Linked DNA regions of Homo sapiens. The protein of the gene in region 1 purifies or fractionates together with the protein of each later gene. This does not show direct contact. Each region holds a gene or a part of one and is shown in the gene's direction. Other genes may lie near its edges.

The links.
Region 2: the proteins of POLA1 (region 1) and HMGA2 fractionate together in Homo sapiens (co-fractionation; one large-scale study listed by BioGRID). This does not show direct contact.
Region 3: the proteins of POLA1 (region 1) and POLD1 fractionate together in Homo sapiens (co-fractionation; one large-scale study listed by BioGRID). This does not show direct contact.
Region 4: the proteins of POLA1 (region 1) and POLE2 fractionate together in Homo sapiens (co-fractionation; one large-scale study listed by BioGRID). This does not show direct contact.
Region 5: the proteins of POLA1 (region 1) and DDX46 fractionate together in Homo sapiens (co-fractionation; one large-scale study listed by BioGRID). This does not show direct contact.
Region 6: the proteins of POLA1 (region 1) and WDHD1 fractionate together in Homo sapiens (co-fractionation; one large-scale study listed by BioGRID). This does not show direct contact.

Annotation. Positions count from the first base shown.
Region 1 is NC_000023.11:24,710,918-24,714,417, forward strand, and holds part of POLA1 (DNA polymerase alpha catalytic subunit), read left to right. Parts: intron 1-3,500. UniProt on the Homo sapiens protein: Catalytic subunit of the DNA polymerase alpha complex (also known as the alpha DNA polymerase-primase complex) which plays an essential role in the initiation of DNA synthesis.
Region 2 is NC_000012.12:65,963,637-65,966,791, forward strand, and holds the end of HMGA2 (high mobility group protein HMGI-C), read left to right. Parts: 3' UTR 1-2,655; downstream 2,656-3,155.
Region 3 is NC_000019.10:50,404,847-50,408,346, forward strand, and holds part of POLD1 (DNA polymerase delta catalytic subunit), read left to right. Parts: intron 1-1,335; coding exon 1,336-1,476; intron 1,477-1,560; coding exon 1,561-1,671; intron 1,672-2,136; coding exon 2,137-2,328; intron 2,329-2,480; coding exon 2,481-2,569; intron 2,570-3,500. UniProt on the Homo sapiens protein: As the catalytic component of the trimeric (Pol-delta3 complex) and tetrameric DNA polymerase delta complexes (Pol-delta4 complex), plays a crucial role in high fidelity genome replication, including in lagging strand synthesis, and repair.
Region 4 is NC_000014.9:49,664,215-49,667,714, reverse strand, and holds part of POLE2 (DNA polymerase epsilon subunit 2), read left to right. Parts: intron 1-1,301; coding exon 1,302-1,385; intron 1,386-2,551; coding exon 2,552-2,608; intron 2,609-3,040; coding exon 3,041-3,089; intron 3,090-3,500. UniProt on the Homo sapiens protein: Accessory component of the DNA polymerase epsilon complex. Participates in DNA repair and in chromosomal DNA replication.
Region 5 is NC_000005.10:134,824,779-134,828,199, forward strand, and holds part of DDX46 (probable ATP-dependent RNA helicase DDX46), read left to right. Parts: intron 1-2,168; coding exon 2,169-2,242; intron 2,243-3,421. UniProt on the Homo sapiens protein: Component of the 17S U2 SnRNP complex of the spliceosome, a large ribonucleoprotein complex that removes introns from transcribed pre-mRNAs.
Region 6 is NC_000014.9:54,989,100-54,992,599, reverse strand, and holds part of WDHD1 (WD repeat and HMG-box DNA-binding protein 1), read left to right. Parts: intron 1-1,199; coding exon 1,200-1,387; intron 1,388-3,387; coding exon 3,388-3,500. UniProt on the Homo sapiens protein: Core replisome component that acts as a replication initiation factor. Binds directly to the CMG complex and functions as a hub to recruit additional proteins to the replication fork.

The DNA of each region.
Region 1 (3,500 bases):
TCTCCCAAAGTGCTGGGATTACAGGTGTGAGCCACCGCGCTGGCATGTATATGTATTTTTATTTCCTTTTCTTTCTTTTTTCTGAGACAGATTCTTGCTCTGTCGTCCAGGATGGAGTGCAGTGGTGCGATTTGGGCTCACTGCAACCTCCGCCTCCTGGGCTCAAGCTATCCTCCCACCTCAGTGTCCCGAGTAGCCAGGACTACAGGCACATCCTGCCACGCTCGGCTAATTTTTTGTGTTTTTAGTAGAGACAGAGTTTCGCCATGTTGCCCAGGCTGGTCTCAAACTCCTGGGCTCAAGCAGTCCGCCCGTTTTGCCCTGGGAAAGTGTTGGGATTACAGGCATGAGCCACGGTGCCCGGCCCCTTTTCTTTCTTAAACAAAAGATAATGTTATAGAGGTTTTGTACTTTGCTTTTTTCTTGTAGCAAGATGTCTTGAAAATTACCCCATATTAGAACATAGAGAGCTTGTTTTTAATTATTTATTTCTATGTAGCTGCATAGTATTCCATGATAGGGATTGCACAATGTTTATTCAAATGGTTTCCTTGGAAGGACATTTAGATTATTTTGAGTAATTTGCTATTATAATGCCACATCCAATAACTCTGTGCATATGGCGTTTTCCTCAGAGAAAATTCCCAGAAGTGGGATTGCTGGCTCAAAGAGTAGCTACGCATAAATTTTTTTTTTTTTGAGATGGAGTTTTGCTCGTTGCCTAAGCTGGAGTACAATGGCGCGATCTCGGCTCATTGCAACCTCTGCCTCCTGAGTTCAAGTGATTCTTCCGCCTCAGCCTCCTGAGTAGCTGGGATTACAGGTGCCTGCCACCACACCCAGCTAATTTTTGTATTTTTAGTAGAGACGGGGTTTCACCATGTTGGCCAGGCTGGTCTCGAGCTCCTGTCCTGAGATGATCCACCCGCCTTGGCCTCCCAAAGTGCTGGGATTACAGGCGTGAGCCACCACGCCCAGCCCACTACACATAAAATTTTATTAGCTATTGCCTATTCTTTATAGGAGCTGTCCCATTTTACACTCTCATGAACAATGTATGAATGTCTGTTTCTCTACAGCCTTACTAACAGTGTTTTCAAGCTTTTGAATTTTTGCCACTCTGATATGTGAGAAGTGGCATTTCAGTGTGGTTTTCATTTGCATTTTTTTTTGTTTGTTTGTTTTTGAGACTGAGTCTCACTTTGTCACCCAGGCAGGAGTGCAGTGGTGCGGTCTCAGGTCATTGCAACTTCCGCCTCCTGGTTTCAAGCGATTCTCCTGCCTCAGCCTCCCAAGTAGCTGGGACTACAGGTGTGTGCCACCATGCCCGGCTAATTATTGTATTTTTAGTAGAGATGGGGTTTCACTATGTTGGCCAGGCTGGTCTCGAACTCCTGACCTCGTATTCCGCCCGCCTCGTGGCCTCCCAAAGTGTTGGGATTACAGATGTGAGCCACCATGCCCAGCCTCATATGCATTTCTTTTACATATGAAATTGATCATCTTTTCATAAAACGTAACTATTTATATATGTTTGTGTTTACTGCCTGCTTTCCTTTTGGGCTTTTTATCTTTTAAGTTTTTAAAAGTTCTTTGTCAGGGAAATTGGTCCTTTATCTGTGATACATATTGCACAAATTTTTTCTTCATTTTTCTTTTAACTTGGTTTTCTTTTTTCTTGGTTTTTCTTTTTACACCAATTCTGGTGTAATTGAATTTATCATTTTTTTTCTTGCAAGTGGATTCTGAGTCATAGAAAGATTTTCACTGGACCCAAATTGCAAAGGAATTGCTTTTTAAAAGGTTTTTGTAAAGTTTCATTTTTAAAAATTTTGATTTGTGATCCATTTGGTGTTTATACTGGTTTACTTCTTTACAAATGGCTAGCCAACACTACTTAATAAAGTCCATCTTTTCCTTAGTGATATGGGATGCCACCTTCATTATATATTAAATTTCCATAAGTAATTGGGTCTTATTCTGGACTTTATGTTCTGTTTCATTTGGTCTATTTGTATGCCACTACCACATTCTTATTTTTTTTATTTTTTTATTTTGAGACAGAGTCTTGCTCTGTTGCCCAGGCTGGAGCGCTGGAGTGCAATGGCATGATCTCGGCTCACTGCAACCTCTGCCTCCTGGGTTCAAGCGATTCTCCTGCCCCAGCCTCCCGAGTAGCTGGGATTACAGGCATGCACCACCATGCCTGGCTAATTTTTGTATTTTTAGTAGAGACAGGGTTTCAGCATGTTGGTCAGGCTGGTCTCGAACTCCTGACCTCGTGATCTGCCTGCCTCGGCCTCCCAAAGTGCTGGGATTACAGGCGTGAGCCACCGCGCCTGGCCTACCACATTCTTTCAATTATTCATTGTTGGCTTTTTTTTGAGATCAGGACTATTCTGGGATGAATCAGAAAGCGAGAGTAAAATTGACGGTATTAGAAAAGTTTGTAGGTGATTTACACATAGCCGTAAGAGAAAACATATGGCAAAAGTTTTGTTTGTTTTTTTTCTTTTTCAAGACAGAGTCTTGCTCTGTTGCCAGGCTGGAGTGCAGTGGCGCGATCCCAGCTCACTGCAATCTCGCCTCCGGGGTTCAAGCGATTTCCCTGCCTCAGCCTCTCGAGTAGCTGGGATTACAGGCATGTGGCAACCACGCCTGGCTAATTTTTTGTATTTTAGTAGAGATGGGGTTTCACCATGTTGGCCAGGATGGTATCGATTTCCTGATCTCGTGATCCGCCCGCCTCGGTCTTTTAAAGTGTTGGGATTACAGGCGTGAGCCACCGCACCCGGCCAGCAAAAGTTGTTCTTTAATGAGCAGATGTCTCTGTGCTGTTTAGTGTTGATATGACATACTGTGTATCTGGTTGCTGTTTCTCATAAAATGGAAATTAGGATGCCACCATATCATAATTGGTAATCCCATTTCTTCACAGTTAAATTTTCCTATCAGATTCAGTATACAGCTAAAGAGATGATCTCATGAAGGCTACTAGGCTAATTTCTTGGTTCAAGATTAGCTTTATCTTTTTATTTCTGTGGGGAAAACAAACCCAAATTCTCACTTTTTTAAAAAGCTTTTTATTCACATTAACAATAGCAGTTAAGCAGTCACACTTATGCTGATATTTAACTGGTATTTCATTAGTTTCTATAAAAACATTTGGCCCATGTTTTCTTGAATTAAACTCATTTAAAATATTTTTTCCTACATACCTTGTATAGAATCTCATAGTTTTGTTTTGTTTTGTTTTTTGAGATGGAGTCTTGCTCTGTCGCCCAGGCTGGAGTGCAGTGGCGTGATCTTGGCTCACTGCAAGCTCCACCTTCTGGGTTCACACCATTCTCCTGCCTCAGCCTCTGGAGTAGCTGGGACTGCAGGCGCCCACCACCATGCCCGGCTAATTTTTTGTATTTTAGTAGGGACAGGGTTTCACTGTGTTAGCCAGGATGGTCTCGATCTCCTGATCTCGTGATCCTCCCGCCTTGGCCTCCCAA
Region 2 (3,155 bases), on another chromosome or scaffold:
AAAAACCGAATTGGGTTTAGTCAATCACTGCACTGCATGCAAACAAGAAACGTGTCACACTTGTGACGTCGGGCATTCATATAGGAAGAACGCGGTGTGTAACACTGTGTACACCTCAAATACCACCCCAACCCACTCCCTGTAGTGAATCCTCTGTTTAGAACACCAAAGATAAGGACTAGATACTACTTTCTCTTTTTCGTATAATCTTGTAGACACTTACTTGATGATTTTTAACTTTTTATTTCTAAATGAGACGAAATGCTGATGTATCCTTTCATTCAGCTAACAAACTAGAAAAGGTTATGTTCATTTTTCAAAAAGGGAAGTAAGCAAACAAATATTGCCAACTCTTCTATTTATGGATATCACACATATCAGCAGGAGTAATAAATTTACTCACAGCACTTGTTTTCAGGACAACACTTCATTTTCAGGAAATCTACTTCCTACAGAGCCAAAATGCCATTTAGCAATAAATAACACTTGTCAGCCTCAGAGCATTTAAGGAAACTAGACAAGTAAAATTATCCTCTTTGTAATTTAATGAAAAGGTACAACAGAATAATGCATGATGAACTCACCTAATTATGAGGTGGGAGGAGCGAAATCTAAATTTCTTTTGCTATAGTTATACATCAATTTAAAAAGCAAAAAAAAAAAAGGGGGGGGCAATCTCTCTCTGTGTCTTTCTCTCTCTCTCTTCCTCTCCCTCTCTCTTTTCATTGTGTATCAGTTTCCATGAAAGACCTGAATACCACTTACCTCAAATTAAGCATATGTGTTACTTCAAGTAATACGTTTTGACATAAGATGGTTGACCAAGGTGCTTTTCTTCGGCTTGAGTTCACCATCTCTTCATTCAAACTGCACTTTTAGCCAGAGATGCAATATATCCCCACTACTCAATACTACCTCTGAATGTTACAACGAATTTACAGTCTAGTACTTATTACATGCTGCTATACACAAGCAATGCAAGAAAAAAACTTACTGGGTAGGTGATTCTAATCATCTGCAGTTCTTTTTGTACACTTAATTACAGTTAAAGAAGCAATCTCCTTACTGTGTTTCAGCATGACTATGTATTTTTCTATGTTTTTTTAATTAAAAATTTTTAAAATACTTGTTTCAGCTTCTCTGCTAGATTTCTACATTAACTTGAAAATTTTTTAACCAAGTCGCTCCTAGGTTCTTAAGGATAATTTTCCTCAATCACACTACACATCACACAAGATTTGACTGTAATATTTAAATATTACCCTCCAAGTCTGTACCTCAAATGAATTCTTTAAGGAGATGGACTAATTGACTTGCAAAGACCTACCTCCAGACTTCAAAAGGAATGAACTTGTTACTTGCAGCATTCATTTGTTTTTTCAATGTTTGAAATAGTTCAAACTGCAGCTAACCCTAGTCAAAACTATTTTTGTAAAAGACATTTGATAGAAAGGAACACGTTTTTACATACTTTTGCAAAATAAGTAAATAATAAATAAAATAAAAGCCAACCTTCAAAGAAACTTGAAGCTTTGTAGGTGAGATGCAACAAGCCCTGCTTTTGCATAATGCAATCAAAAATATGTGTTTTTAAGATTAGTTGAATATAAGAAAATGCTTGACAAATATTTTCATGTATTTTACACAAATGTGATTTTTGTAATATGTCTCAACCAGATTTATTTTAAACGCTTCTTATGTAGAGTTTTTATGCCTTTCTCTCCTAGTGAGTGTGCTGACTTTTTAACATGGTATTATCAACTGGGCCAGGAGGTAGTTTCTCATGACGGCTTTTGTCAGTATGGCTTTTAGTACTGAAGCCAAATGAAACTCAAAACCATCTCTCTTCCAGCTGCTTCAGGGAGGTAGTTTCAAAGGCCACATACCTCTCTGAGACTGGCAGATCGCTCACTGTTGTGAATCACCAAAGGAGCTATGGAGAGAATTAAAACTCAACATTACTGTTAACTGTGCGTTAAATAAGCAAATAAACAGTGGCTCATAAAAATAAAAGTCGCATTCCATATCTTTGGATGGGCCTTTTAGAAACCTCATTGGCCAGCTCATAAAATGGAAGCAATTGCTCATGTTGGCCAAACATGGTGCACCGAGTGATTTCCATCTCTGGTAAAGTTACACTTTTATTTCCTGTATGTTGTACAATCAAAACACACTACTACCTCTTAAGTCCCAGTATACCTCATTTTTCATACTGAAAAAAAAAGCTTGTGGCCAATGGAACAGTAAGAACATCATAAAATTTTTATATATATAGTTTATTTTTGTGGGAGATAAATTTTATAGGACTGTTCTTTGCTGTTGTTGGTCGCAGCTACATAAGACTGGACATTTAACTTTTCTACCATTTCTGCAAGTTAGGTATGTTTGCAGGAGAAAAGTATCAAGACGTTTAACTGCAGTTGACTTTCTCCCTGTTCCTTTGAGTGTCTTCTAACTTTATTCTTTGTTCTTTATGTAGAATTGCTGTCTATGATTGTACTTTGAATCGCTTGCTTGTTGAAAATATTTCTCTAGTGTATTATCACTGTCTGTTCTGCACAATAAACATAACAGCCTCTGTGATCCCCATGTGTTTTGATTCCTGCTCTTTGTTACAGTTCCATTAAATGAGTAATAAAGTTTGGTCAAAACAGATCAAGGAGGGAGACACTCACAAGTCATTTTGTTGCACCCCTTGCACACATCTTGGCACACATGTACATAAAGTGTGTTTTACATATCATACTCCTTCAATCAACTGCCCTGAGCTCGCCTTTCAGATTTTGACATTTAATTCTACAGAGACAATCTTAGAAGAAACATGAAGAACAAGCTGTAGCTCCAAACTACAGAATTTTTACTTCAGGCTAGCACCTACAAAGTTTGTAAGGGAAGTAACTAATGCACTAGTCGTCTTTGAAGTAACATTGGAAAGAGATCCGGAAGATTGATGAATAAGAAATGAAAGCCACGAAGAGTCTCCTAGATAGGAGCCTTTTAACTCTAAAAACTACTAGCAGAGTCAGAATGATTCTACCAAGTTCAAGGTCAACTTGACACTTAAGTTGCTAATTATGAATAAATCTAGGATTTTTAAAAAGCTAAAACTTTCGGTTTTTACTATCACCGTTGTTACTCAAATTTTCTTCATTTAG
Region 3 (3,500 bases), on another chromosome or scaffold:
CAGGGGGCGCTGGGGTGTAGAAGTGATTCTCCTGCCTCAGCCTCCCAAGTAGCTGGGATTATAGGCACCCGCTTCCATGCCCGACTAATTTTGTATTTTTAGTAGACAGGGTTTCTCCATGTTGGCCAGGCTGGTCTCGAACTCCCAATCTCAGGTGATCTGCCCACTTCGGCCTCCCAAAGTGCTGGGATTACAGGCGTGAGCCACCGCGCCTGGCCTATTTTTGTTTTTGTTTTTGTTTTTTTTAGCAGAGACTAGGTTTCATCATGTTGGCCAGGCTGGTCTCCATCCTCACCTCAGGTGATCTGCCCACCTCAGCCTCTCAAAGTGCTGGGATTACAGGTGTGAGCCAGTGCACCTAGCCCACATGTCCTCTTTGTGTAGTGACACCGTCGTGAGGTGAGGGCCCACCCCAGTGACCTCATCTTCACTTGACCCCCTGCGAAGACATATTTCCAAATGAGGTTACATTCTGAGGTGCCGGGGGTTAGGGCTTCAACATCTTTTGGGAGAACATGGTTCAGCCCTTAATGAGATATATTGCCTTATTTTCCTGCTTTTCTCTATGTCTGGCCAGCTTGGTAATGGAAAAACAAAACAGGCTGGGTGTGGTGGCTCACGCCTCTAATCCCAGCACTTTGGGAGGATGAGGCGAGAGGATCGATGGAGCCCAGGAGTTCAAGACCAGCCAGGGCAACATAGCAAGACCCTGCCTCTATTAAAGAGAAAACAAGAAAAAATCCATTCTAAAATACAGAACAAACTCTTAGGACCCCCAGTGTATATTCCACAGCGTGGCGCTGATGCCCGGGCCATGGTACTCCTCCTCCCCTTCCCTGGGTGTCCCTCACCCTCTGCCCTGTCCCCAGCTCAGGCTTCTTCTGGCCTCAGTCTCCCCCAGGCTGGGCCCCAGCACCCTGCAAGGCCTCCTGCAGCCAGGCGCCCTCCAGCGCCCTCAGCATCCATCTCAGCCCAGCTCCACGCCGCCTCCTGCCTCTGCCCCCACCTGGCCGCCTGCTCACAGTGTCCCCAAATCTCTTCCTGTTTCCTGCCTAGGTACAGCCCGCAGACACTGGGCTCCATCCTTGGCCCCCAGTCCATCAGGGCCCCTGACTCTCGCTATCCCAGCCTTGGCTGCAGCTTAGTCCTTACTCCGGACTCCCTCCCCAGTCTCCAGCCACCCACACCCAGCCCCAGACCGTCTTTCTGCCCCCAGGGTTGCTCTCGACCCCCTAGGGTTGTTATAAGGATGTTGTGGTTGGTCTCAATCTCCGTTCTTCAGGCTTATGTGACGGGGACCCGCAGCCTGCTGCACACCCTGCCTCTCCTCCTCAGGTACAAACATTCCCTTTCCTGGGCCGTGTGGCCGGCCTTTGCTCCAACATCCGGGACTCTTCATTCCAGTCCAAGCAGACGGGCCGGCGGGACACCAAGGTTGTCAGCATGGTGGGCCGCGTGCAGATGGACATGCTGCAGGTATGGGCGGGAGGTGGGGTGTGTCCCTGTCCTTGGAAGGCCACTGCCCAGGCCCGCAGCCCACCAGCCCACCCACCCACCTAGGTGCTGCTGCGGGAGTACAAGCTCCGCTCCTACACGCTCAATGCCGTGAGCTTCCACTTCCTGGGCGAGCAGAAGGAGGACGTGCAGCACAGCATCATCACCGACCTGCAGGTGCCTGCTGCCTCCCTGACCTCTCACCCCAACCTCTGACCTCCACCTCACCCTTCCCCGGCCTCTGACCTCAACTTCACGCCCCCACGTCTGACCTCACTCTTTGACCTGCTGTTATGACCTGTGACCTTACCTGACGCCCACTTTTTCCTGACCTCTGACCCCAGATTTCTCTCCACTCCTGTGACCTCTGTCACTATGACCTTGTCTCTGCTTTCCTGGCCTGACCACAGGTCCACGGTGGCCTTCAGGCTGCTCCCTCCTCCTCCCTCTGGCCCTGTGGACTCCCTGGCCCCCAACCCTACCTCCATCCCCACCCAGACCCTGACGACTTGGAGGGCCCTCCTGCCCGCCTCACCTCCCAGGCCCTCCCCAGGCTACCTCACCCTGACCCCCACTTCCTTCTCCTGCTCCACCTCCCACCCCCAACCCCTGGTCCCTGACCCCATCCGTGCCCATCCCCAGAATGGGAACGACCAGACCCGCCGCCGCCTGGCTGTGTACTGCCTGAAGGATGCCTACCTGCCACTGCGGCTGCTGGAGCGGCTCATGGTGCTGGTGAACGCCGTGGAGATGGCGAGGGTCACTGGCGTGCCCCTCAGCTACCTGCTCAGTCGTGGCCAGCAGGTCAAGGTCGTATCCCAGCTGTTGCGGCAGGTCAGTAGCCGAGACTTGTCCTCGCCACCCCCCACCAGGCACGTCTGTGGCCCCCTCCAGGCAATGGCATCCTGGATGCACTTTTTCTCCCCACTCCCAATCCGCACGGCCCCACCTATACCCACTCCATTTCCCACCTTCTCCCCTCCCAGGCCATGCACGAGGGGCTGCTGATGCCCGTGGTGAAGTCAGAGGGCGGCGAGGACTACACGGGAGCCACTGTCATCGAGCCCCTCAAAGGGTGAGGCCCCAGGCTGGGTGCAGTTTTTACCTGTAATCTCTGGGAGGCTGAGGTGGGAGGATCACTTGAGCTCAGGAGTTTGAGACCAGCCAGGGCAACATAGCGAGGCCCCTGCTCCACAAAATTTTTTTATTTTTATTTATTTTTATTTTTATTTTTTTGAGACAGAGTCTCGCTCTGTCACCCAGGCTGGAGTGCAGTGGCGCAATCTCAGCTCACTGCAAGCTTTGCCTCCCGGGTTCACGCCATTCTCCTACCTCAGTCTCCACAGCAGCTGGGACTACAGGCGCCCACCACCACGCCTGGCTAATTTTTTTTTTTTTTTTTTTTTTTGCATTTTTAGTAGGGACGGGGTTTCACCGTGTTAGCCAGGATGGTCTCGATCTGACCTCGTGATCCACCTGCCTCGGCCTCCCAAAGTGCTGGGATTATAGGCGTGAGCCACCGTGCCCGGCCGAAAAAATTTTTAAAAATTAGCCAGGCGTGGTGGTGCATGCCTGTAATCCCAGCTACTTGGGAGGCTGAGCTGGGAGGATGATGAGCCCAGGAGGTGGAGGCTGCAGTGAGCGATGATTGCGCCACTGCCCTCCAGCCTGGGCGACAGAGCAACACCCCGGCCCTAAAATAAATTAATAGGCCAGGCACGGTGGCTCACCCCTGTAATCAATCCCAGCACTTTGGGAGGTCAAGGCAGGCGGATCACAAGTTCAGGAGATTGGGACCATCCTGGCTAACACGGTGAAACCCCGTCTCTACTAAAAATACAGAAATTAGCTGGGCATGGTGGCGGGCGCCTGCAGTGCCAGCTACTCGGGAGGCTGAGGCAGAAGAATCGCTTGAACCCGGGAGGTGGAGGTTGCAGTGAGCTGAGATTGCGCCACTGCACTCCAGCCTGGGTGACAAAGCGAGACTCCGTCTCAAAAAAAATAAA
Region 4 (3,500 bases), on another chromosome or scaffold:
TCTGTAGCTGGATGCAGTGGCTAGTGCCTGTAATCTTGGTGACTCAGGGGGCTGAGGTGGAAGGATCACTTGAGCCCAGTTTAAGGCTGCAGTGAGGTATGAGAGTGCCACTGCACTCCAGCCTGGGCAATGTGAAACCCCATCTCAAAAAAAAAAAAAAAAGTTTCTATCTGTGTAGTGGGCCAAGAAAGTTGCACAGAAATATTAAACATTGTTTTTATTAGTAGAAAACTGGGAACAACTTAAATGTCCTTTAATAGGAGTTTGGTGAAATAAATGGTCATATGTATAATATAGATATCTCTATTCTTTAAACAGAAGGAAATCTATATGTAGAAAAATGGAAAGATGTCTCAGATAATATTAACTTCAATTAGTTAAGTTGCAGAATAGTACATATACTATGATTTCATCTTTGTAAATAAACTGTATAGGTGTGTGTTATAAATTATATATGTATGTATTTACATATATTTAGGATTACATATAGAAAAAGATGGAAAGTTTTTTGTTTTTTTTGTTTTTTTTTTGAGACAGAGTCTTGCTCTGTCACCCAGGCTGGAATGCAAGGCGATCTCGGCTTACTGCAAGCTCCGCCTCCCGGGTTCACACCATTCTCCTGCCTCAGCCTCCCGAGTAGCTGGGACTACAGGCGCCTGCCACCATGCCTGGCTAATTTTTTGTATTTTTAGTAGAGACAGGATTTCACCATGGTCTTGATCTTCTGACCTCGTGATCCGCCTGCCTCGGCCTCCCAAAGTGCTGGGATTACAGGCGTGAGCCACTGCACCTGGCCGGAAAGGATTTTTTACAATAGTGTCCCAATTTTTACTACCTTAAACTTTCTGATTAGAAAAAAAGATCAGATTGAGAATGTAAATAATAATGAGAGCCTTTTAAAATACTAAGTAAAATTGGAATATATATTTTTAAATAGCTTGCTAGTTTTCAAAAGGTACTGTTCAAAGAAAATAAAATTGATATTCTTTTCTATATTTAAAAAATAAATGTACTTATCATTATTCAGAATGATATGGTGTGAGGATTCAGTCATTGGTAAGAGCCTGAGTCGATGTGGTGTTTCTTTAGGCATCATACACTTGATCTTACAGCTTTTTTGTAGGACAAAATTAAACATCCTAAGTTTAATTTTACAACTTTATTTCCATTTTATTTGATTTTCTACTGTAAAGTAGCTATAAATGCTGAAATGTATACCCCAAATATAGTTATTTATAAAAAGTTTTGTTTCTTGAAAGAATATATTTACAGTCTTTAAAATTTATTTTGTTTTATTTTAGCTTAAAACAATAGAAACCTTATTGGGTAGTACAACCAAAATCGGAGATGCGATTGTTCTTGGAATGATAACGCAGTTAAAAGAGGTAACTTAATAAGCATCAAACTTTTATTTTTGGCCTTGGATTGATGAAATGTCGGTTACATAGAACATTTTTGTAGTGGGCACAGGAATGTATTCTTTATTGAAAACTCGCCTCACCAACAGAACAATATTGGAATAGTGGTAATACGAGGAAATAGTATCATCATGTCAGAAGCCTTGGAACAAGGATAAATAATGGCTGTTGGCTGGGCGCGGTGGCTCACGCCTGTAATCCTAGCCACTTTGGGAGGCTGAGGTGGGCGGATCACCTGAGGCCGGGAGTTCAAGACCAGCCTGACCAACATGGAGAAACCCTGTCTCTACTAAAAATACAAAATTAGCCAGGCGTGGTGGCACATGCCTGTAATCCCAGCTACTCAGGAGGCTGAGGCAGAAGAATTCCTTGAACTCGGGAGGTGGAGGTTGTAGTGAGCTGAGATGGTGCCATTGCACTGTAGCCTGGGCAACAAGAGCGAAACTTTGTCTCAAAAATAAATAAATAAATAAAATAATAATGGCTGTTCAGCAGAGAAACCCATTTTCTCTCTCCATAGGGCCTGTTTTACAATGACGTAAAAATTAGGTCATGTACATTTTCATATTAGACTTTTTGTTAAATAAACTTTTGTAATAGTAAAAAAAAAAAAAAAAAACCCAGAAAAAACAAAAACCTTTTCTCAGTCACCAAGTGTCTTTTTCATCTGTGTTTGGTTTCCTGAGAAGACATCAGGACAGAGTGTCTTGTGCAGGAGCCCAGTTTGCATAGCCTGAAATTAGGCCTGTAGTGACCTCTGGATAAACGGAGAGTACTGGGTTTCTGAACAAGCAAGCTGCAGAGTATGTCCTGGTCCCTTGGACATGCTGTTGGCTGTCTTAGAAGGTACCTGGGGAGACCCTCCTTATGGCAGACATCAAATGTCCCTCTTGCCATTTCTTATCTGTAGGAGTCATTCTCCATTGTACCTGTGAGGAGTCAGAATCTCAGTTAAGTGATTAGTCTGGGGTTATCAGACTAGTAAATGGAAGAGCCTGGACTAGAAATAATAGCTGATTTTTAAAATCCACTTTCTCCCTATTGTATTCTGTTGTCAAACTTGTAGTTTAATTTTTTTGTCAACGGTTTTCATTGTTACATAAATGTGGATTTATTTATTTTCATTTTTTTAGGGAAAATTTTTTCTGGAAGATCCTACTGGAACAGTCCAACTAGACCTTAGTAAAGCTATATCCTTCACTTGTCTGTATTTTTTAAAATCTGCATTACGTGAATTGGGGAAATTGATTATATATCCTTCTAAAATTTACCTATTTGGGTTCTCAATGTAACTTCTCTATGTTGCTGGTGTAGGAATGTAGAGATATAATCCTAAACAGGGACAGAACAACTTTAATTTTCTCTTATTTGGAGAATCTAGATGAATCACTGACGAAATTTATATCATGGTAAGAATGATCCACCCTGTCAATATTACCAAGAATTAAACATGAGGACATTTAAAACTAAAATTTTTTAAGCTCTTTCTAAGCTGTGGTCTATTCACAGTTTCAAATGGGAAGTCTTTAAATTTATTATTTAGAAGCCTTGTTGGACTCAAAATGTATGTTGACTTTATTACTGCCTCAAGAATAGAATTATTTTCCTCAACTGTTGTGTACCAGTTCCATAGTGGTTTATACACAGAGGCATGCTTTGTCTTAGCAGAAGGTAAGTCAGTATACTTTGTTACTGTCCTTCTTCTCATTCTCCAGTAAAACTTTCTGCTTTGGGTAAAATATGTTAACATGATATAATTTGGGATACCATTAATTAGAAGAGCATATTTTTGGCAAAATAACTCTTAGACTGTTAATGGGCTAATAGAAATCTTTTTGGGGTGATGAAAATGTTCTGAAATTAGATAGTAGTAATGGCTACACAACTTGTGAATATACTAAAAATCACCGAATTACACACCCTTTTTTTTTTTTTTCTTTTTTTTTTGGAGACAGAGTCTCACTCTGTCACCTAGGCTGGAGTGCAGTGGCGCGATCTCGGCTCACTGCAACCTCCGCCTCCCGGGTTCAAGTGATTCTCATGCCTCAGCCTTCCGAGTAGCTGAGATTATAGGCGCATGCC
Region 5 (3,421 bases), on another chromosome or scaffold:
GTCATCTGTTTCTAGTTCTGTAATTGGAGGGACCCCACTGCCTGGCTGGCTCCTTGGAGGCTCTGTTTGGCTCAGCAGCTCCAGGCCTCCCACCAGGCAAAGGGAAGGAGAACAGGAAGGACTTACATGCCTAGTCAGCCTGTATAATTTATATAGCCTGTTCTGTGACCCTCTCTTTTTACTAGTGGAGAATCCCTTAAAAGCAGCCACAGTTGTTTTAGGACCAATGAAAGGAAATGCCCTTTTTTTCATAGCTGCTTATAAACATATGTAACCTATTACAAGAAGTTACATAAGTCAGAATTTAAACTGGTCCAAATTGTCGGGCTCTGATAAAAGTAGGAAAATTGATTTTCCAGTTAAATCTAGGTGAGAGTGTCATTTTCCTTCTTTTTAAAGTTGCACAAAAATATCAACAAGCTTCACACCAACTCATACCAAGCAACGTGTTTTCCTCCTAAATTTCATTTTTGTTGTAATTTTCAGTTTGACTTCGGTCTTGATTCTTCTTTTTCTCTTCCCTTCCAGCACTCACCTTCCCCACGTAGTTTTATAGTGTTGTGATTGGTGGCTAGTGGAGGTATAGGATTTAAATTAGATATGTTGCTATGACTTCATAGCCATACCCTTGGCCTTTTCCTTCCTGTTGTGCAACTGTTTCTGTCTCTCTTTCTAGCTCCGTCTCTGTCTCTCTCTGGGGACAGAAAAGTTACTCATTTCTAATATGGGGGGAAATTTTCTCGTTTATTATAAATCTTTCCCTCATTTGTGTTTTTTAAAAATACACGGAATGATAAAAATATAGCTCTCTACGTTGCAAACCCAGTCCTCCTTTTATTCTTAGACATTTCAATCTTTAGTCTTCTTTGATTCAGCTCTTTTTCTCTTCTCAGTGTGCAATATGGTGTCTATCTGTACTTACCTACTCACTGGCATTGTCCATTGGCTCCAGATTCTACCCAGCCTACCCTTGATGGCTCTCTAATCTCTGCCACTTCTAAACTTCTGGTTCATATTTCCATTGGCCTCATCTGTATTTCCAATTGGATGTCTGATGAGCACCTCAACTACAGCAATTTTAGAATTAAATTTCACCCATTATCACTGTCCAGAAAACACCTGTTTACCTCCTGGAATCAGTATATTCTTTTACTTCTGCCTTTTTTCACTTGCCAGCCAGCTCTTAATATCTTAATTTGTTTCTCTTTTTCACTGTTCATATCCCATCAGAAAAAATATCTTGTCCATTCTACCTCAAAAGTGTGCTCTTGTGATGGTATAAATACAATATTGTGAGAGCACTAAGGAAAAAAACACTTAACTGTGCCTTTCAGAGTCAGGAAAACTTCCTAAAAGTGGTATTTAAAAGTGAAGTTTGTGAACTACTTCCTTTTCATCCTGTTTTGATATCTTTACAAGTTTGTTTTTCTAGTCTGTAAGCTTTTAAAGAGCATGAATTTGTTATTTATATGTTAAATGTCTCACAGTATGTGAGAGGTGAGTGCTTAATGTTTATGAAATTGATAACTGTGAATGAATGTCTGCAGCCTACCTCATCTAGTCAGCTATCTTGCGGTGTTCTTTCATACTCCTTTTCCAACCACGCTACGCTTCTCTTATTCTTCAATAATTAAGCATGCTTGTCTTAACTCTGTACCATTACGCATGTAATTAATTTCCTTTGCAAAATACTCTTATGGTATCTTTCCTCCCTCCAATTGGCTAGTCCTCCTTTCATTTTAAAGATTTTGTTCAGACGAGACCCTTCTGAAACATTTGTAGACTTCAGTGAACATCATAAATGTCTAATAAATACTTACTAAATGAATAAACCAAGGAAGTTATATTTCCCTTTAGCCTTCTCTTACTATCTCCTGGACAAATCACTAATAGTCTTTTTATTCCACTCTTTTTAATCACCATACTAGGAACTCTTAACACATAATATGACCTCAGTGGTTACATTTGAAACTCTGAAAGTAATCAAAATAATAAGCAGCCATTATATAATGTGGGTAATGTTCCACCAGGCATTAAATGGCTATCTTGGCAGGCAGTACAGTGTTTCTGAAAGTCACCTACAGTGTTTCTTCCTGGACCTCCGTGATATGGGTAAACACAGTGTAAGTTTAGTAATTTGAATAATATGCTTTCCACTCAATCACTAGGTGCCAATGAACTGGCTGTGCAGAAAGCAAAGGCAGAAATCACCAGGCTCATAAAAGAAGAGCTGATCCGGCTGGTGAGTGAAAACCTTAAAGTTTCGTTTGTTTTGTTTTAATAAGTGTTTTATTGAAATATAAATACAGAGAAGTACTCAAATCATAAACATATAGTTTGATGAATTTTCACAAAGTAATAAGCATACCAGTGTAGTCACTACCCAGATCAAGAAATAAAAAACATTACTAATATCCCAGAAGTCTTCTCTGTGTCTATTCTTGTCACTATTCATCTCCCCCCAACAAAACCATACCTTGAATTTTTTTTCTTTTCTTTTCTTTTTTTTTTTTGGAGACTGAGTCTTGCATTGTCACCCAGGCTGGAGTGCAGTGGCACGATCTCGGCTCACTGCAACCTCCGCCTCCTGCGTTCAAGTGATTCTCCTGCCTCAGCCTCCTGAGTAGCTGGGATTACAGGCGCACACCACCGCATCTGGCTAATTTTTGTATTTTTAGTAGAGATGGTGTTTCACTGTGTTGGCAAGGCTGGTCTCGAACTCCTGACCTCATGATTCACCTGCCTTGGCCTCCCAAAGTGCTGGGATTACAGGCGTGAGCCGTGGCGCCCGGCCCTATATTGTGAATTTTAAAATCATAGATTAGTTTTTCCTGTTTTTGAACTCCACATAAGTGTAATCATGCGTTTGCACCTTTTGCATCTAGTTTCCTTCACTCAACATTTTGAGGAGATCGGTCCATGTTATTGCATGTAGCAATAATTCATTTTCATGGCCATATAATATTTATATGATTATACAACAATTAATTTATATTTATATATTGGATTTGGGGGCTATTCTTATTTTTGGTTTTTATGAACAACACTTCTGTGAACATTATTCCATGTGCGTTTGGTATATATTAGCATGATTTTTTCCTTGGGTATATACCTCGGAGTAGAATTGTTAATTATAGGCTAGGTATTGCTAAATAGTTTTCCAAAGAGGTTACATCAATTCACACTCAATCCAGAAGTGTAGAAAATTCCAGTTGTTCTACATATTTGCCAACACATGGTGTTGTCAGTGTCTTTAAACTTAAACAATGACTTAATTTGATTTTGGAAAAAGCCCTTTACAGACTGCCTTTCCCGAGGAGGTAGACATGTCCTTGTGTCTTTAGTGCCAGTTGCAGCTTATAAACACTCCCTACAGTGTGTACATTTCCTTTGAAAGGAAACGTTGTCTTTTATCTAAGTG
Region 6 (3,500 bases), on another chromosome or scaffold:
CATCAGTAGTTTCTAAGTATTAGAAAGTTGTGAAGCTCATAATGGCAAATAGAAGCTTTCCAATATCTTAATTTTTAATTGAAAGCTCAAATTTCTTGTTTTTATTTTTTGAGAGGGAGTCTTGCTCTGTCACCCAGCCTAGAGTGCAGTGGCACGATCTCGGTTCACTGCAACCTCTGCCCTCTGGGTACAAGTGATTCTCCTGCCTCAGCCTCCTGAGTAGCTGGGATTATAGGTGCCCGCCACCATGCCAGGCTAATTTTTGTATTTTAGTAGAGACGGGGTTTCACTATGTAGGTCAATCTGGTCTCGGACTCCTGACCTCAAATGATCTACCCACCTTGGCCTCCCAAAGTGCTGGGATTACAGGCCTGAGCCACTGTGCCCAGCTCTTTTTTTTTTGAGACGGAGTCTCCCGGGTTCAAGCGATTCTCCTGTCTCAGCCTCCCGAGTAGATGGGATTACAGGCATGTGCCACCATGCCTGGCTAATTTTTGTATTTTCAGTAGAGACAGGGTTTCACCATGTTGGCCAGGCTGGTCAACGTGGAACTCCCGACCTTAAGTGATCTGCCTGCCTCGGCCTTGCAAAGTGCTGGGATTACAGGTGTGAGCCACCGTGCCTGGCCTGAAAGCTCAAATGTTATCATTGGCAACAAATTCTGCCAGTTATTTTTTCTTAATTGATAGGCTCACTTCATTCATTTACAAGAAAATGTTTGCCAAAGATCCAATTCTGCATAACCGTAGTTTATCTGGCATGTGTTTTTTAAGTAAAAGTAGTGTTGTATGAAAAAAAATCACTTAGTTCAGCTTACAACTCAAACAATTGCATAAGTGCTTTTTTTCAAGACAACCATCACACTTCTCATTTTAGCACACAGAACTTTAAAAAAAAAATCTGTGTAAGCGTCAAGATTTAATAAAATTAATATTTTTACTGCAAGTGAGTAGTGGTTAACAATGCAGTAACGACTAATACAGTTAGGTGCCACTGCCTTGATTGGTGCCAAGGCACCAGGAATTTTACCCACCATTGCTTTTGCACCATCACTGCATCTCTTTAACACAGTGAAAGAGGCAAATAGCATGTCAGTGTCATTGAATATGAATGAAAAAGTTACTAGATTCCATAATGCTTTCCTTTTTCCAAATCATTGGTATTCGTGATTCCCTTAATTATGATCCTTTGTGTTGTAGATATTTCAATGCTAAAAACTGGTTCTAGTCTTCTCAAAGAGGAGGAGGAAGATGGTCAAGAAGGCAGCATTCACAATCTACCACTTGTAACATCCCAAAGGCCATTTTATGATGGACCCATGCCAACTCCCCGGCAAAAGCCATTTCAGTCAGGTTCTACACCGTTGCATCTCACTCACAGATTCATGGTAAGACTTGGATCTACACTTAACTTCTTAGTAGGTTTTCAGCACTTTTTTCTTACTATAGTTAATTTTTTTGGATAAAACATATTTTTAAAAACTTTGATTAAGTAGCCTGGAGCACTTTGGTTGATTACAGTTTTGTGGTTGGTTTATTTTATGGTTAGCTCACAGTTTTAATCTTGTTTCAACCTTATTGAAAATGATGTTAAATAAAATTCTGCTTTCCAAAATGACATTAAATGAACATAAGTAAATATTACTATCTTGCAATATTTCTTGGCAATACTTTCAAACCTTATTCTTCATGGTCATTGTTACATAGAAGATTATACTGACTCCAAAACACTAGTAAGGAGGTGCTTTCTTAGAAGGCAACTACTAGTATAATATATTAGAAGGTGGCAAGTACTATGGGGGGAAAAGTCTGACCCTTTTCCTCACTCCACCACCCACCAGAATGTAAGCTACACGAGGATAAAGATTTTTGTTTTGTTTACTGATATGTTCTTAGGATTTGGAACAAGGTATGATACAGTGCACATTAAATATATATTTCATGAATAGACAAAATGAATATATTGGCTTTTTGCCTTAGATTTGAGTTCTTTTTTTTTTTTTTTGAGATGGAGTCTCGCTCTGTTGCCCAGGCTGGAGTGCAGTGGCACAATCTCTGCTCACTGCAAGCTCCGCCTCCCAGGTTCACGCCATTCTCCTGCCTCAGCCTCCCGAGTAGCTGGGACTACAGGTGCCTGCCACCATGCCCAGCTAATTTTTGTATTTTTAGTAGAGATGGGATTTCACCATGTTAGACAGGATGGTCTCGATCTCCTGACCTCGTGATCCGCCTGCCTAGGCCTCCCAAAGTGCTGGGATTACAGGCGTGAGCCACCGCGCCTGGCCTGAGTTCTTAAAAAGTTTAGTTTTTCTGTGTTGGTTATATGATGTTTTCCATTCTGAGGATTTTGCCTTTTTAAAAGTATAGGCCTGGCATAAATTTGAAGAGTATAGGCCTGGCATAAATTTTTATGTAAAGATTAAGGGTGGTGATTAATATTAATAAAACTTTTTATTGCTATCAGTAGTCATCAAGTCATAGGTCTTAATTTTTTTATTAGTGTCAATATTTTATTTATAGTTATGTTAAATAAAATATTGGCACTAATTTTATTAGAAACTCTAGGGCCTAGTGTGAGCCTATAATGGACATCAGTGGAAGATAAGTTTTCCAAGTGGTATCAATTTATGTTGCCTCTGCCGGGCGTGATGGCTCACGCCTATAATCCCAGCACTTTGGGAGGCCAAGGTGGGTTGGTCACTTGAGGATAGGAGTTGGAGACCAGCCTGGCCAACATGGTGAAACACCCTATCTCTACTAAAAAAATACAGAAATTAGCTGGACCTGGTGGCATGCACCTGTAACCACAGCTACACAGGAGGCTGAGGGAGGAGAATCACTTGAATCCAGGAGGCAGAGGTTGCGGTGAGCCGAGATCATGCCACTGCACTCCAGCTTGGGTGACAGAGCAAAACTGTCTCCAAAAAAAAAAAAAAATTATGTTTTCTTAAAATGTATGTATTTATTTTATCATAGAATAGTTAGGAAAAAAGTCTGTTGTTATTTGCATCCATATTTGTAAGAAAACTCAATTTTTGAAATATTTCTTTTGAGGAATTTAATGGTTTGGTTGTTCAAAGGACAACTGTAATGTGCTTTTAAAGTAACAGTCATGTAATTTATTTTTAAATATTATTAAATACTCTATTTGCTAATTAATAAGTATATATGTATCTTATTCTCACCAAGGAAATAATAAGTAATTGTAGCTCTGGTATTATGACTCCTGTCAGAAACTATTTAGAGATAGATGAGATGTAGTAACTCCCAAAACCTAAATCTTAATACAAATTTAATTATAATATTTGTTAATTTGTACTACTGTGGCTTACTGATTCTAGGAGCTTCAGTTTTTCTCAGACTTATATTTAATCTTACCTGTTTGTAGGTGTGGAACTCTATTGGAATTATTCGCTGCTATAATGATGAGCAAGACAATGCCATAGATGTGGAGTTCCATGATACCTCCATACACCATGCAACACACTTATCAAACACTTT